Regions from separate parts of the Homo sapiens genome. Here region 2 is linked to region 1. A link means that fine-mapping ties the variant in region 1 to the expression of a gene that starts in the linked region. Tissue or cell type: testis. Region 1 holds a variant in brackets; the other region holds the start of a gene. All regions are shown on one strand. Distances are between the middles of the regions.

Region 1 (5,375 bases):
GTGTTTCTTTTTTTTTTTTTTTTTTTTGCAACTGTTACTTCTTTCTGCTACTTAGCCTAACCCCCCCCACCCTCCCTCCCCCCCTCCCCCCCCTCCCCACCATACTCAGCGTTTTCTATCAAAAGCCCAGGCCTCCTGCCACTGCAGTTAGAACCCTTTCTTCACTTTTCTGGCCTATTTTATTATTAATTCCTAACTTTCTCTGGCAAAAGAAAAATTATCTAGACAATGATTCGCTTCTTTGACAAAACCACTTCATGACAATTATACTAAGTTTTAGGAATTCAATGTAAGCATCACGAATACATTTTTTCCTTTTATATCACCATGGGTCTGGATGCAGAAGAGACCAAGAATTTAGCACTGGAAGAGACCTTGAATCTCAGCTAGCACATATGACCTGGGTTTGTCTAATTATCTATTATATTTGAGGAAATGAAGGAGCAGGAAGGTCTAGTGACCTGCTCAAGCTTGCATGACTAGTTAGCAAGACAACACTGGCTAGATCCTAGCTGATTTCACCCTGCATCTGCTTTCTGTCACTATTGATTAGTTTGTTTTTCCCAAAATTTCAAATAGAATCATACGGTGTGTGTTTTTTGTATCTGGCTTCTTTCACTCAGCATAATGTTTTCGAGATTCATCCACATGGTTGCATATATTGGAAGAATATGCTTTTTTATTGTTGAGTAATTTTTTTTGTAAAGACGTACCACAATTTATTTAGCCGTTCTTCTACTGATGGACATTCAGGTTATTTCCAGGTTTTGGCTATTATAAATAAAGCTGCTATGAACATTCTTGTATTAATATATGGTGTTTTGTGAACATATATTTTTATTTCCCTTGGGTAAGAAATACTTATGAGTAAGTTTGATGGGCCATAGGGTGGGCGCACATTTTGTTTTATAAGAAATTGGTGGTTGCTTTACATCCTCACCCACAGATGGGGTTGCCAGTTTTTTAAATTTTAGTTTTTCTAATGGACACGAAGTTATATCTTATTGTGATTTGGATTTACATTTTCTTGATGATTAAGTTGCATTTCCCTGATGGATTTTCATGCACTTACCAGCCATTCCCCGTACCTTCCTTTGTGAGGTGTTGGTTCAAATCTTTTGCCTATTTAATTGGGTTGTTTTTCTTCTTAATAGTGAGTGGTAAAAGTTTGTTTTATATTCTCAATAAAGTCCTTTGTCAAATATATGTGTTATAAATATATTTTTCCAGTCTGTGGTTTGCATTTTTGTATTTTAAAAGAAGTCATTAGAAGAGCTAATTAAAAACAAAATTTAGGCCAGGTGCAGTGGCTCACACCTGTAATCCCAGCACTTTGGGAGGCCGAGGCAGGCGGATCATGAGGTCAGGAGATCGAGACCATCCTGGCTAACACGGTGAAACCCCGTCTCTACTAAAAATACAAAAAATTAGCTGGGCGTGGTGGCGGGCACCTGTAGTCCCAGCTACTTGGGAGGCTGAGGCAGATGAATGGTGTGAACCTGGGAGGTGGAGCTTGCAGTGAGATGAGATTGCACCACTGCACTCCAGCCTGGGCGACAGAGCAAGACTCTGTAAAAAAAAAGAAAAAAAATTTTAATGAAATCAAATTTGTCATTATTTTCTTGTATGGATTGTGCTTTTAAAATTTCATTTTACTTTATTTTATTATACGTGTTCAGTATTTCTGTCATAGCATGAATCATGCTTTTCTTGTATCTTATCAAAAACATCTTTTTCTTTGCATACTCCACTGCCACAAAGATTTTCTCCCATTTTTTCCAGAAGTTTTATCATTTTAGCTTTCATATTTATGTCTTTAATCCACTTTGAGTAAATTTTTATGTATGGTGTTAGATAGGGTTGAGGTTCATTTTTTTTCATGTAGATTTCTAGTTGCTTTGGTACCATTTTTGAAAAAACTATACTTTCCCATTGAATTATATTTGTACCATTGTTGAATATCAGTTATCATAGGTGTATGTGTTTACTTATGTATTCTATTTTATTATGCTGCTCTACATGCCCATTGTTTGGACAAATCACACTGTCTTGATCACTATAGCTTCTTGAAATCAGGTAGAGTAATTTCTGCAACTGTTTCTTTTGCAAAATTATTTTGACTATTCTTGGTTCTTTTAAAATCCATTTGTCAGTTTTTACAAAAAGTCTGATATACCATAAATATGATATATCACGGCATTTATTTAGACCTTTTTAAAATTCAGCAGTCTTCTATATTTTTCAGTCTATAGGTTTCGTGTATATTTAATTTTCCATAAGTATTTCATTTTTAATGTTACCATAAACAGAATTCTAATTTCATTTTCCAGTTGTTCATTGCTTGTTATATTGTTTATTTTCTTGTATAGAAATACAATGGACTTTTGTATATTAACTTTATATCTCTTCTCTTTTTAATTTGAGACAGGGACTTGCTATGTTGCCCAAGCTTACCTCGAACTTCTAGGTGCCAGTAATTCTCCTGTCTCAGCCTCTTAAGTAGCTGGGATTATCAGCACATGCCACCATGCTGATCTATAGCCTTATTTCTTGAGATTTCATAAGTTCTATTATATTTCTTCTTGGTTCTTAGGGATTTTCTATTAATACAATAATTTTACCTGTGAATAAAGCCAGTTTTACTTCTTCATTCAAATTTATGTTTCTTCTGTTTCTTCCCTTCTTTTTCCACCCTCACCCTCCTTATTGTCTTGACAGATCTCTAGCACAATGTTGAATAGAAATGGTGATAGTGGATACGTTTTCTGTATTCCCAGGGTTAGGAAAAAAACATTCAATCTTTCAACATTAAAGATGATCTTAACCTTAAGTTTTTTGTTTTTGTTTCTGTATTGTAGATGTCCTTTACTAGGTTGAGAAAGTTACCTTTTAATCCAAATCTACTGAGAGATTTTTATCTCTTAATAAATGATGAGTTACATTGATTAATGTTCAAAACATTAACACAATGTTAACCAACCTTGTGTTCCTGGAATAAGCCCTCACTTGTTCACTACATATTATCTCCTTTTTATATCTTGCTGAATTTGATTTGCCAAAATTTTATCTTGAACTTCTTAG[G/A]CCTGAGAATCAGGAGAGTCAATGGTATTAGTGCTTGTCCGGAAGCCATCATGCTTCAAAACCAAGAAGAGCTGATTTTCCAGTTGGAGTCTAAAGGTAAGAAAAGACTGATGTCTCTCAGCTTACGCAGTCAAGCAAGAGGAGTTCCCTCTTACTCCGGGTTTTTGTTCTATTCAGGTCTGGAATTTATTGGATGAAGTCCACCCACGTTAGGGAGGGCAATCTGCTTTATTCAGTCTTCCAGTTCAGATATTATTCTCACCAGAAACTTCCTCACAGGTACATCCAGAGTATTGTTTGATAAAGTGTCAGGATATCCCATGGCCTGGCCAAGTTGATACATAAAAGTAACTATCACACCTCAGAAACAAACATTTGGAACCTTTAAATTTCAAAGTTGAAAGAGAATTAAAAATTCTCTAGTCAGCCACCTTGTTTTGCATGCAATTAAGTGATATCGAGAGATGTAAAGGGCTGACCTAAAAATCACATACATTCATTCATTTATTTAAAAATTCAACATTTATTTTAAAAACTTTTATTAAGTGTTAACCATATAATTGTCATTGAAGATATAAAATTAGTAAAAACAGAAAGTCATTGAATTGTGTATTTAAACAAGTCAGTGTTATGGTACATAAATTATACTTCACATAAAGCTGTTACAAGAAATAAGATCCAGTTCTTTCCATCAAGGAGATGACAGTTTAGTGGAAGTGTGAGACAAGCATAAATGATTACAATAACTTGTGAACACGCTATAACAGCTGTATGCTTAGCCACTTAGCACTGGAGTACCAGGGTTCAGGCCTTGGACCGTTTATATTTTCTTCCCATAACCACTCCCTTCATTATTTCATTCAGTGTCATGGCTTTAAAAATCAATTCCATTTTGATGACTCCCAAATTTTTATCTTCAGCAGATATCACTCCAAAACTCTGAGCTCTTACATTCAACTGACAACCTGTTATCTCTCTTTTAAAGGCTAAAGAGCATCTCAAACTCAACATGTACAAAACCAAATTCTTAGCCTTCCCCTCCAAATCTGCTCCCTTCTACAACCTTCATCTCACTTCATTAGCAGCTTCATCTTTCCAGTTGTTCAGGCCAAAAAACCTTTGACTCATCTTTAATTTCTTCCTTTCTCTCATACACTGCATTTAATCCATCATGAAATCCTATTGGGCCTACCTTCAACATAGATCCAGAATCTGACCACATCCAACTACCTCCTCTGCTACAATCCTGGCCCAGGTCCTCATCTTCTCTTGCCTGATTTATCATCTTATCCCCTAACAATCCATATTCTATAGCAACCAAAGATTCTGGGAACCTTTGAAAATGTAACCCAGATCAAGTCAGTTCTCTGATCAAATTCTCCAACAGCTTCCTATCTCAGTCCTAGTAAAAGCCAAAGTCCCTGGGCACGGTGGCTCATGCCTGTAATCCCAGCACTTTGGGAGGCCAAGGCGGTCAGGTCACCTGAGGTCAGGAGTTTGAGACCAGCCTGGCCAACATGGTGAAACCCCATCTCTACTAAAAATACAAAAAAAAAATTAGCTGGGTGTGGTGGCGGGCACCTGTAATCCCAGCTACTCAGGAGGCTGAGGCAGGAGAATCACTTGAACCCAGAGGCTGAGGTTGCAGCGAGCTGAGATCATGCCATTGCACTCCAGCCTGGGTGACAAGAGCGAAACTCTGTCAAAGAAAAAAAAAAGGCCAAAGTCCTCACAGTGGTCTGCAAGACCCATAAGATCTGGCCCTCCAACTCTACCTTTTGCCAATCTAGTCTTCATTACTCTTATTTCTGCTCACTCTATTCCATCCACATGGGCTTTCTAGCTGTTCTTGAAATATTGGCAAGCTCCTACTGAAAGGCCTTTGCATTTTCTGTTCCCTTTGCCTGGAACTGTCTTCATCCGCACTGGCCACTCCCTCACCTCCTTCAAGCCTTAACTCCCATGTTTCCTTCTCACTGAGGTCTTCCCTGACTACCCTATTTCACGTGGTAAGCATCCCCTCTACTCCACACACACCCCCTCCCCTAGCACTTCTTTCCCCCTTCCCTGATCTATTTTCTCCATAAACACTTACCATCTTCTAACATCCTACATAAATAATTTACTTATTTAGTTCATTGTCTGTTTATCCCTATTAGGCCAAACGCCCCATGGAGGCTTGTCAGTTTTGTTCACCACTGTTTTCCTAGCATCCAGAACAGTAGGCATTTACAAAACATTTGGGTAGTGGAATAATATGTACTTCTCCAGGACTCTTAAGAGAAGAAAATGAG
Region 2 (5,375 bases), 53 kb before region 1:
CATATTCTATTTTAATTTGGAATGTTTTATACTTGCATTTCATGTTATGTAGTTTTTGGACTGGACTGTGTTTTTCCACAAAATGAAAAATCAACTATTTTGCCACCTTATTATTCAACCTACCTGCCCATAGTTGTCTATGCCAGTTACTAATCTATTTAAATTTAATAAATCAAAAGCTGTCCTTAGGGATTGGCCAAGAGTCGTAAGTCCTTCAGCCTGAAGGTTTTTCAATTCATTCATAAACGTTGCATGGTTTTCTTTCCATCCAGCCTGAAAAGAAAAATGTAAGATTTTTTTTTTTCATTTTTTAAAGCCATGTACACAGAGCCGTTATAATCTGACGTTCACCAAGTAGCAGCTTCACTTTTGGTTGGTTTGGCTTGGTTAACGTGTTAATACTGTACCGCTGCTGAGGAAACTCTCTTCCAAAGGTGGCCCAGGAATAACCCAGCTTCCTCTCTAGGTTTTGGTAGTTAACTGCCTTAATACTTTATAACTTCACTGACAAATTTACTACCTAATCTAATACCCAAAATTTGGGTATGTGAAGGTACTAGTGGAAGCAGATGGGAGCCGGACTTAGGAAGTTAACCTGCAGCTGTCCCACCGGCCCTCTTAGGACGAATCTGACAAGACCAATCCTGGCAGCCCCGCATCTGGCTTCCGGGCCGGCCGGGCCGATTCCCCTTTAATGCAAACCGGGGCTGTGCGCGGCCGGGCCCGGCTGTCACTCCGGCTAACTTGAATAAATATCCCCCACAGTTCATTGCTGCCGCTCACGCCGCGGAGGGGAAATGTCGGCCATGTTGATAGCAGCGCCGCCGCCGCCGCCGCCGCCGCCGCTGCCGGGCCGGGCCGGGAGGGGACGGCGGTGGCCCCGCGACTCCGCGCCGCGCTAGGACGCTGCCGAGCGGGGGAGGGGGTGGGAGCCCGCAGGGAAGAGACCTCAGCGGCTGGGAGCGCAGCGGGTGGGGGAGGGGAGCATAATGAAGGGTGAATGGGGGGGCGGGGAGGGCGAGCGAGGAAGGAACAGGGAAGGGAAGGGAGGAAAGGGGGAGGGCGAGGGCTGTTACCTTGATAGCATAGGGCGGCTCTTCGAAAGTGACCAGCATATACCTGTCTCCTCTGCTGGCAGGGTCCCGGGCACGGAGCTGCGGGACGGGAGGAGGAACAGGGCGGGCGACAGGGAAGCACAGAGGCGAGGTTACGAGGCGGAGAAGGGGCGCCCAGCGGCCCCGCCGCCCCCACAGTACCGCACACGCAGCGGCCACCCCTCCACGCCGTCCCCCACACACAGATCGCTCCCCACACACCGCCCGGGGCCGGAGCCCGGGCCCCGGCCGAACCCGGCTCGCAGCGCCCGCCCGCCCGCGCGGTGGGGGAGGGGGTCCCCGAGCCCGGCAGCTCCCGCAGTCAGGTCCCCGACACCCCCGCCCCGGCCGCCCTCCCCCACCCTGCCGCCCGCGGGCCGCCGGGCCGGGGTCGCCGCCCGGGCTCGGTCAGTCGGTACCTTCATGAAGGTCTCTACCGCGCCTTTGGCCGTGTCCAGGTAGGTGGTGCCCAGATGGCTGCGCTGGTTCATAGAGGCAGACGTGTCTATCAGGAACAGTAAGATGGGCATAGTGCTGGCCGGGGACACCGGGGCCCGAGGTGGTGGAGAAAGAGGAGATGGTAGAGGTGGAGGCGCCGGTGGCGGCGACCGCCGCTACGCGGGGCGGGGGAGCACGGCCCCCGGGAGGAAAACACTGTCTGGGTCTTTCCTCCGGCTGCGGGGAGTTTCTCCCCCGATAGTTGAGAGGAAACTCCCCAGACCCAGTGCTCCCCGTCGTACCCCCGCCTCCGCCTCCTCCTGCCTGCCTGCCCGCTGGGGCGGGCGCCCAGCCGTCTGTCTGTCGGTTCGTCCCCCCCGCCTCGGGGGTCCCGTCCCCGCTCCCGGCCCCTGTGTGTGTCCCAGCGGGAGACGGGCCTGGCTCCCCACCCCACCCCCGGTACAGGAGTGGGGACCTGGGAGCTGGCGAAGAGGGGAGTGGGCTGAGGGAAGATTGGCCCTGGGGCTGTTGGGAGAAGTTTCAGGGACTCCCTCCGCACCCCGGCGGTGTCACCACTTTCTCAGCCCCTCTCGCTACTGAAGCGCTTTTCTCTCTCACACTCCGGTTTTAACTCGGGCAGGGGCTGCGGAGGCTCCGCCCCTGACACGTCCCCGAGCCACGTGATACACCGCCTCGCCGTTCTACTGGTCAGGCCCTATCCTTTCATTAGCATATTTAAACAGCTCAGGGGCGGGGGAAGCTTGTAGGCCGGCTCCGGGGACAGTTATTGAGCACGCGCAGAGGCGGGGCGTCGGGTGCGCGCGAGCGGGCGGGCGGGCCGACCCGGAGGCGGGCTTCGGGAAGGGGCGGGGCCGGACTGCGGAAGGACCGCGAGGTGGGGGCGGGGGCCGCGTCCGCGCGCGCGGGGCGGCCGCGGCGGTGAGCCTGCGCGTCAGGGCCGCCGGCCTCTCCTTGGCTGTTGGAGGTGATAGGGGTCGAGGGGAGGGAAAAAGGGGCTGGCGTCAGCCGCCCCTGTGAGGTGGCCGTAGCGTGGACGAGTAAGAAGGGTTGAGTAAAGTGGACAAACACCTGGTTAGGAGAAGAGGGCAGGCCCGCAGCCGCCCTCCGGAGGAGGACTCGGGGCCTCGCGGGCGCCGGAGGAGGTTCCTGGGCCTCGGAGGGCCGCCCCGGCGCGCCGCCCCGGCGCGAGCGGGCGCGGGCGGGGGAGGGGAAGTGAGAGGTTGTTTATGACCGGGGACTAATCTCCTCCGCGAGTCCCAGCGCTCCCTCTGGGGAGTGCGGTTGAGGGGCTGTCCTCGCACGGAGCCTCGCTCGGCCTCGGGGGAGCCACGAGAGGTGGGAGTTGGACCCGCAGCGGGCCAGGAGCCCTGTCATTGGAGGACCCGCCAAAAAGGAAGCAAACCCTCTTTTTCTTTATCCAACCCCAAATAGCTAGGGCCTAGGGGGAAGACTCACATATCGATAAATGGTTTGTTGCCCGTTTTATTCTCTGGGAAATACAACTGATCTTACCAAAGAAATAACCTGTCTCTTGCCGTGTTTACTTAGAGCCATAGAATACCTGTTTCAGAGCTGAAGGGGACCTGAGCCCATGATAATCCATTACCTCGTGAGAAAGCGGAAAAACTGACTTCAGCTTGCCCAGATGGCGCAGAGAATGGGTTTCCCGTAACCCCGCCTGTGTCTTTCCTTCAGCCTCGTCCCAAATGCCGTGGGAGGGAAGGCACTCTCTGTCAAGCTGCTGTCACCTTACCTGAAGTAAGGAGTCCACGCCTGCATGTCCGAGGAAAACAGTTTTCTCAAACACATTAGTTGAAAAACTGAAGACGCTGCCTAAAATACAAGCTGAGTTAGAGACAGCCCTTGTAAGACTAGGTAGGTATTTACAGGGCCTCTCCCACTAGCTTTGTTTTTCCAGAGTTTGTTCTTTATCCGGAAATTCTTAATTTGCCTACTGATCATTTAAAGAAAGGGTTCTATTAACATTGACACAGAAGAGACACTTTGTGGCACTTTTTAAAAATCTGAGTCTCGTGACTTGGTATAACTTCTGAAACTTACTGTTAATTTATAGCAGAGCTATTTGAGTAATATGCTCTTCTATGAGTATGAACAATAGAAGAAGTGTGATTTTTAAAGTGATTTGGACTACAAAATAAGAGCATGGAATATAGGCTTTACAGCCAGTACTTGCTGAGGATGTACTGTGTATTAGGTGTGGTGCATATAAAAAATAAATAAAATGTGGTCCCTGTCTTCAAAGAGCTTATGTTTTCTAGGAAAATGCTACATATTACTAGCTACTCCAAGGCAGAAAGTTGTTAGACACCAAATCAGAAAAAATAAAAATGTATTACCTTGGGGTGATGCAGGAACATTTTCCAAGGTTTCAGCTTTGCCTTAGTGTTTCTTAAACGGATCATAGATCTGAAGATAAGAATCAGAGTTCTATGGCAAAATACGAGTTATTTTACCAGTTATAAAGATGAAATTTGTCTTTCAACTTGATCATTTGCATAATTTTATACAATTGCTCTTTAGTTCTTTATATTTGTGCTTTTCAAACTGGTCTGTGGACCCCAGCCTACTGAAAACATTCTCTAGGATCATAAGAATTTATTTTAGGAGTCTGTTCATTATTCAGTTTTAAGAAACACTGTCTTAAAGGACTGGTAGGATTTGGATATGGGTAAAGGAAGGGGAAGCTGCTAGTGAAAAGATCTTCCCGACATTGAAAATGTGAAGAAAGGAAGTTAAGACAGCATTGCTGAGGGCTTCCTGAGGAACAGTGAAGTTCAGCTAGGTTGGAGCAACAGGTGCATGTAGAATAGTACAAGATCTAGAAACACAGGTGAGATCTAGACAGTAGAGGGCCTTTATTCCAATCTATGGAGGTTTTTTTTCCCCTATAAATTGGAGATTTATTTTTCAATTGCGTTGCTAAGTAGAAGCAATGTTTGAAAGAAATCAAACTAGACTACTGAAGATTAACATGCGTTCACAATGACCTTACCTATTATTACAGTTATTCGAAATCATTTTTCAGTGGAGCCATTGTCACAGGATCCTTGGAGTGTCACTTTTCCAGCTGGAAAAATGGCACCTCTGCCCGAATTTTGGTCGGGCTCATTCTGCCCACCAGTCCCAGCAGGCTGCACTCTGCTCATACTACGGCCTGGATCCCACACCTGCCAAGTGCAAGCCAGGTGCGGAGCAGCGAGGGGTGTGTGAGCGAGCAAGCATGGGGTCCGGCCACTGTATACAGCCCGGCATGCCAGCTGCAGGAGGGCGGGCAGCTCTAGGGGCTGGCCCCTTGCAAGGCTGTGGCTGGTCCAGGTGTACTGCAAGCAGCTTCCACAGCTGGCACCAGGGAATGCAGTGGCACCTGGAAGCTTGGAGATGCCAGGAGCTGCAGAGCCCCAAAGAGGTTGTCACAGGGAGCTCCTAGGTCTAGGCTTCCTAAAGGGCCACAGCTCTTCTCTCCTCTCTTCCCCCTTCTCTTTCCTTTCTTCTTCTCTTCTTCTCTCTTCTCTTGTTGTGTTGCCCACAACATGGCAAGCAAGGGGCATATTTCAGCCCGTTTGTGTTACAGCTCTTTCAGCCATGCCATTTGGCAGGTCCCGAGTTATTGTCCCACATCCAGGAAGAATGAGGTATGTGGACAAGTGGAGGGTGAGCAAGGCAAAGAGGTGCTTTGTTGAGTGACAGAACAGCTCAGAGGAGACCTGAGGGCAATGAGTAGCTTCTTTCTGCAGGCAGGTCATCCCAATAAGTGTCCAGCTCTCAGCAGAGAGGAGACCCACAATGGGTAGTTCCTCTCAG

Evidence for each region.
Region 2: INTS6-AS1 starts here. The variant in region 1 is fine-mapped to the expression of INTS6-AS1 in testis (GTEx, PIP above 0.99).

Annotation. Positions count from the first base shown.
Region 1 is chr13:51,503,462-51,508,836 of GRCh38, forward strand. No RefSeq gene overlaps it. Among named protein-coding and RNA genes, the nearest start is that of MIR4703, 46 kb to the right of the region's middle. The variant G/A (reference allele first, on the strand shown) is at 3,082.
Region 2 is chr13:51,450,902-51,456,276 of GRCh38, forward strand. It overlaps INTS6-AS1 (INTS6 antisense RNA 1), which reads left to right and starts at 2,444. Exons shown (of 2, transcript NR_103812.1): 1 at 2,444-2,517; 2 at 3,102-3,815. INTS6 (integrator complex subunit 6) reads right to left here and starts at 2,135. Exons shown (of 18, transcript NM_012141.3): 1 at 1,514-2,135; 2 at 1,077-1,154; 3 at 124-273. The coding sequence starts at 1,624. RefSeq lists silencers at 671-720, 781-940, 1,011-1,150, 1,161-1,280, 1,291-1,560 and 3 more and an enhancer at 2,121-2,170.